2 separate regions of the Homo sapiens genome follow, and region 2 is linked to region 1. Evidence: fine-mapped expression QTL. Tissue or cell type: spleen. Region 1 holds a variant in brackets; the other region holds the start of a gene. All regions are shown on one strand. Distances are between the middles of the regions.

Evidence for each region.
Region 2: it holds the start of RETSAT, and the variant in region 1 is fine-mapped to the expression of RETSAT in spleen (GTEx, PIP 0.98).

The regions. Positions count from the first base shown.
Region 1 is chr2:85,325,236-85,328,094 of GRCh38, forward strand. TGOLN2 (trans-golgi network protein 2) reads right to left here and starts at 2,754. Exons shown (of 4, transcript NM_006464.4): 1 at 2,682-2,754; 2 at 1,273-2,450. The coding sequence starts at 2,727. RefSeq lists enhancers at 1,357-1,526, 1,767-1,946, 2,807-2,859. The variant G/A (reference allele first, on the strand shown) is at 1,722.
Region 2 is chr2:85,353,381-85,356,260 of GRCh38, forward strand. It overlaps RETSAT (retinol saturase), which reads right to left and starts at 1,148. Exons shown (of 11, transcript NM_017750.4): 1 at 956-1,148. The coding sequence starts at 1,127. ELMOD3 (ELMO domain containing 3) reads left to right here and starts at 1,389. Exons shown (of 14, transcript NM_001135022.2): 1 at 1,389-1,449; 2 at 1,696-1,790; 3 at 2,175-2,218. RefSeq lists enhancers at 1,150-1,651, 1,216-1,615, 1,652-2,151, 1,786-1,845.

The DNA.
Region 1 (2,859 bases):
CTAGCGTGTGGGAGGAAGTCTGTTTGATTTATTCAAAGGTACACAGTCAAAGATCTATCAACTCCTTCCTAGAGATATCTAGGATATAGGACATTCCTTTAAAAAAAGTCATAATCAGAATTTCCTATCTACAAATGTACTTTTTCACCCCACGATGCTACATCAACTACATTCTTTATCAATCTCATTTCATGACTAAGGTTACCCTGCATAATGGACACTTGGACATAGAATAAGAAATACACTTTTTTTTTTTCTTAGAGGCAAGGTCTCACTCTGTCACCCGGGCTGGAGTGCAATGGCGTGATCATGGCTCACTGAAGCCTCGACCTCCCACAGTCAAGCCATCCTCCCACTTCAGCCTCCTGAGTAGCTGGGACCACACACGTCCACCACCACATCTGGCTAATTTTTTTATTATATGTAGAGACGAGGTCTTGCTATGTTGGCCAGGCTGGTCTCGGACTCCTGGGCTCAAGCGATCCTCCTGCCTCGGCCTCCCAAAGTGCTGGGATTAGAGGCAGGAGCCACTGCACCGGGCCAGGAATGCACATTTTTACTAAAGGTCTTCCCCTTTATTCTTTATAGCCATAGGCCTTATGGCCAGAATTGGACTCTCCAATTTTAAGCAGGTTACAGAAACTAGCTTCTAAATGTTGGGGGCTCAATATGAAATGCAATCATTTTGTCATTAGAGTGGTTGCTAATAAACAGACCAAACCCTGATGAAAAAGTAACAGGTGTACGTGTCTGTGCAATTTCTGGGCTTTCTTCTAATTATTATTAATTGCAGAAGTCCCTGGGCTCTTTGGTCCTGGTATCGAAGACGCAGTAATTGAAACCATTCTTTGTGCCACTGCTGATGGAAGAGAGAATGTTGGGAAAGGAAGCTAGAAATGACATATCGTCTCAAGAAGGGAAATAGGATGGAAGGTACGTGCTTTAACTGTCAAGTACTCAGGTCCTCTGAGGCTGTGAAGGACCTAAGTGCAAAGTTATGGGAGGAGATTCCAAGTCAGGTCAGATCCTAATAATGTCCTAACTTGGCTCCTAATGCAGTAGCAGAGGACACTCAGAGTAAACAGGTGACAGGATGAAAACACGATTAACAAAACAAGAGTAAAGAGGCCTAATAGGGCCTGAGGAAAAAACTGAAGTTTGTTTTAAAGTCCCCAGTGCTCACGGGCATCTAGTGACGGGATACCCACCCACACCCAAGCTTCCAGGGTGCTGGAAACCCCACTCCCCTCCGGAAGGCCGCTGTCGACTTACCTTCCGCTTGTTGTGATGAGCGATATAGAGGACAGCCACAAGAATGGCTGCAGTCACCAGATATGCAAAGAAGTGGCTGCTCTCCGCGCTGCCATTTCCAGAACCGTTCGGATAAAGGTCATCCTTCTCGCTACCCGTGGAATCCGAAAGTGTCCCTTCACGGTTCTCACTGGAGGCAGAACCGGACATCTTTTCTTTCTCTTCTTTGGGCGGTGAGCCCTCCTCGGGTCCTGTATCATCATCTTCAGCCTCTTTGGGCTCCACATCCTCAGTAGGCTCTGAAGACTTAACTTCCTCCTGCGGGGGAGAAATGAGGTCAGTTTCCTCCCCAGATTCGGTTTTGAAAGCATGAGGAGAAAGCTTCCCTTTGTCAGCAAGCTGGTTTGTGTCAGCCTTGGGGAGCTCCTTGTTATCAGAAGGGTTGGAGATGGGCTTGGAATGGTCTTTCC[G/A]GGAAGGCTGCTCTGGAACCACCTTGTTAGGGCTGTCTTTTGAGGTCTGCTCCTCCGCACCCGACTTGCTGGGCCCGTCTATTGGGCCCTGCTCCTCTGCACCGGACTTGTTAGAGCCGTCTTTTGGAGTCTGCTTCTCCGCACCCGACTTGTTAGGGACGTCTTTTGGGGTCTGATCCTCCGCACCCGACTTGCTGGAGCCGTCTTTTGGGGTCTGGCCGTCCGCACCCGACTTATTAGGGACATCTTTTGTGGTCTGCGCCTCCGAACCTGACTTGCTAGGGCTGTCTTTTTGGGTCTTTGCCTCCGCACCCGACCTGTTGGGGCTGTCTTCTGGGGTCTGCGCCTCCGCACCCGATTTGCCAGTGCTGTCTTTTGGAGTCTGCAGCTCCGGATGCGACTTACTAGTGCTGTCTTTTGTGGTCTGCGCCTCCGAACCCGACTTGCTAGTGCTGCCTTTTTGGGTCTTTGCCTCCGCACCCGACTTGTTGGAGCTGTCTTTTTGGGTCTTTGCCTCCGCACCCGACTTGTTGGGGGTGTCTTCTGGGGTCTGCGCCTCCGCACTCGACTTGCTAGGGCTGTCTTTTGGAGTCTGCGGCTCCGGATGCGACTTGGTAGAGCCTCCAGGCCGTTGGCTCAAGCTGGGGTGGGTGGAGACGTTTCCTGCAGAAGGCCGTACTCCAGCTTCTTCTTGCTTGACGCTTTCGGTGGCCAAGAGCGGCACGGCTCCTGAAATAGAAAAACGAGTTAGCACCGGAGAAGGGCAGGCGGGAAGAAGGAACTCCTCAGAACTGGAAGAGATCGGGAGCAGCGGGGGAATGGGGATTGGGGGGTGGGGCGGGAGACGATGGCGAGCGGAGAGGTGGGTCGGGTAGGGAAGAAGCGAGCCTAGAGGTGACCTGCCCAGGTGAGAATGGGGGATCTGGGGGCAAGAGTGGGATGCGGGATGGAGGGTCTTACCCGCCGCTGCGACGTTCAGGAGGACCAAGGCAACCACGAACCGCATCCTGCTCGGATAGCGCTTCCGCCCTCTAATGCTCTCGCGAGATCCGCGCGCGGGGCCCCTCTCCAGTCCCGCCCCTGCTGCGCGCGTCTCTCAGTCTCCCGCTGCCGCCAAGACGAAGGGCGGGATTTAGGG
Region 2 (2,880 bases), 28 kb after region 1:
CGGAGATCGCGCCACTGCACTCTAGCATGGACAATAGAGCGAGACTCTGTTTCAATAAATAAATAAATAATGCCAGTTGCAACTCACTAAATTGATTTCATAGCCCACTAATAGATCACAATCCGGTTTGAAAAGCAGTTAAGCTAGTCATCTCATTTTTAGACCAGCCCAGGTAGGTGCTAATGGTTATGCAGCAAATTAGTGACAGAGTCCAAGCTAAAACTCAGTTCTCAGAAGTCCAGATGATTAGTCCTTCCACTTAGAACAGTACTGTCTCCGATTGTGTAGCAAGATATGACACGGAGAATTCTAAAATTTACAAGTGAGAGGGACTCCGTAGATCAAACAGGTGATCCATTATTTTTTAAAGCAGCAGAACTCTTTAAACTCTAGAAGCAACCACAAAATATGTTTTAAAGATGAGAGTGGAGAGCAGGCTCTGAGCCTGAGGCGCCTTGTTGAACCTCTGCCAATGTTTCAGAACTAGGGTTCAATCCTTACGATTTGGGACCATGCAAAGCCTGTTAAATCACCGGACGGGCAAAACGCAATTTCCTACGCATTTCTGTGCTGCTCCCCCACACCCCTGAGCTCGCATGGGAGGGTAGGTGAAAAAGTTAAGGTCCTGGAACCAAGTGGAGGAATGAGTCACGGGGATTATCAGTTCCACGAGCCACGGGGATTACAAGTGGCAGGGCGGGTGCCAACACCTTGCAAACCAAGGACAATGACCACACCCTTGGGACTACTATTCCCGGGGCCTACTAGGGCAAAGGCTATCGACAGTGTTGCACACTAAAGCGGGGCTCCTCCACGTGCAAGGAAGCCCTCCTAGTACTTTACATATGGGGAAACTAAGGCCCACGTCTGGTAGCGGCTGCCTTGGCAAAATGAGAACCCAAATCTGTGAGAAAGCCTCGAGTGCAGCCCCGGACCCCAGGGTCCCTCCTGCTACCTTGTTTGAGAACCTTCTTCCTGGCCTCCTTGTCAGTTACCAGGGGCGCTGGGGGCCGTTTGACATCTTCGGAGAAAGGATTCGGGGAGCTGCCAGAGAATAGTCCCAAGTAAACTTTGCAGAGGACGGCCAGCAGCAGCACAGCCAGGAGCAGCACCAGCGGAAGCCACATCACGCCGGCGTCGGGTCGGGTAAATGGGACAGCTCCGACTGCGCTCAGCCTCTAGGACTGTGGCTCCGCCCGGGCTAGTTCGCTCTCCAGTCAGGAGGCGGAGGCAGCTTTGAGCACTGATTAACCAGCCAGCCAGCGAAGAGCCAACTCTCAGGTGATGATTGACCCTCCCGGCTCTCCGTACTTCTTTTGGGTTTCCATTGCCTACTGGGAAATGTAGTTCTCGGGGCCAGGGGAGCCGGCACGGAAGCGGCTGTGCGCATGAGCAGATGAGGCCTAGCCGAGGCGGCGGGACCCCCAAGTTTGGAAAGCTCTTTTAACGGTGAGAACGCGTTAACACTTGCCAAGGGGAGTGGTTGGTGCCTGTGCGGAGCTAGCAGCCGGCCTGAGGAGGGAGGGAGAATGTGATCCGGTGGAAATTATCACTATGGGGCGAGACAAGGCCGAGAGTTGTAAGACTGAAAGAGAATCCCGACTGGGAGACAGGAGTCCTGAGTTCTGGTCCTGGCTCTGCCCTGGACTCGCTGCCTTGAGGTGTTAAATTGCTTTCCTCGTCTTACGCCTCCAGGCTATGCGAAAGTTCTGTCCAAAGGCTGCTCACAGCCCCTGTCTGACTGGTTGTCATGATGAATTGAGCTCTCTGTTACCTGCGCATCACAACCGGTGAGCGTCTGTCTCTGTGCCCCTCAAAGTGGCCCATAGTTTTGTCCTGGGGGCCCGCCTGGGACGGAGTCCTCTATGGCGGGTCCCTAATGACACCCCATCCGTGGGGAACCTGGGGGACGGGGAGCCGCCCATGGACAAGCATGGTGAAAGGATCAGCTAAGGGCCCATCTAATTTAAATTCCTATGCAGAGAATCTAACCTCCAGCAAGCAGTTGAAGAATCATACCCCCTCCTTGCCTAAAGAGGGTGCATAATGAATACTTGATTGGAGAAGGATCCATTTTTACAGGAAGGCCGTTTCCTTAGGTCCAACTATCAGGAATTTGCCTTTGAGTACTTCCTTGTTTAATGGAATTGTTGCTCTTTTCTTCTCTGCTACAGATAGTAACTGTCCCTACTGAAGGCCCCAGGAGTGCTCCAGCCAGGTGTGGAAAGCTGGTCACGATTCTATGCTACTTGGTTCATTTTCTACACAGCAACAGAAGAGCCCTCCTGAGATTGCTATTACCATACCCGCCTGTCACCTTGCCAAGGCTGGCCAATGTGTGTTTTGTCATAGGCTGTCATGGAGGCCATGATGGAGGAAAAGGAAAGGGGAGGCAGATGTTGAGGCCCCAGAGGCCACAGTGAGAGCAGTTTAGTTCCTGGGGTGCCAGGACTAAGGGGGCATTGCCCTGTCCCCCGGATTACAGTGAGCCACATGTCAAGCCCAAGAGCCAGGAGGTATTCTTCCTCTCAGTGTTAATAATCAAAGCATCCTGACACCAGCAGCCAGTTTTTATGGCATCCTGGAGGGCTGACCTCATAGAGAGGCTACCCTCCTTCCTTAGTCACCCAAAGTTGTGAACTATGATTGTCAGTTGTGTGTGGGCCATCTGCCCACTTAGGATGCAATTTTTGATGTGACAGACATTCCGGATGTCCAATTCCCCTGTGATGAGGTATGAGCCTTGTCCAGCCCTTTTCCTGAGGGAAGCAATGTCAGATGAAAGACTTAGAATTGCCCAAACTGGCTAGCCAGCTGCCACATGCACAGTATTGCTGATAACTGAGAAAGGTTAGAACATCGTGTTGCATTTTGAATTTC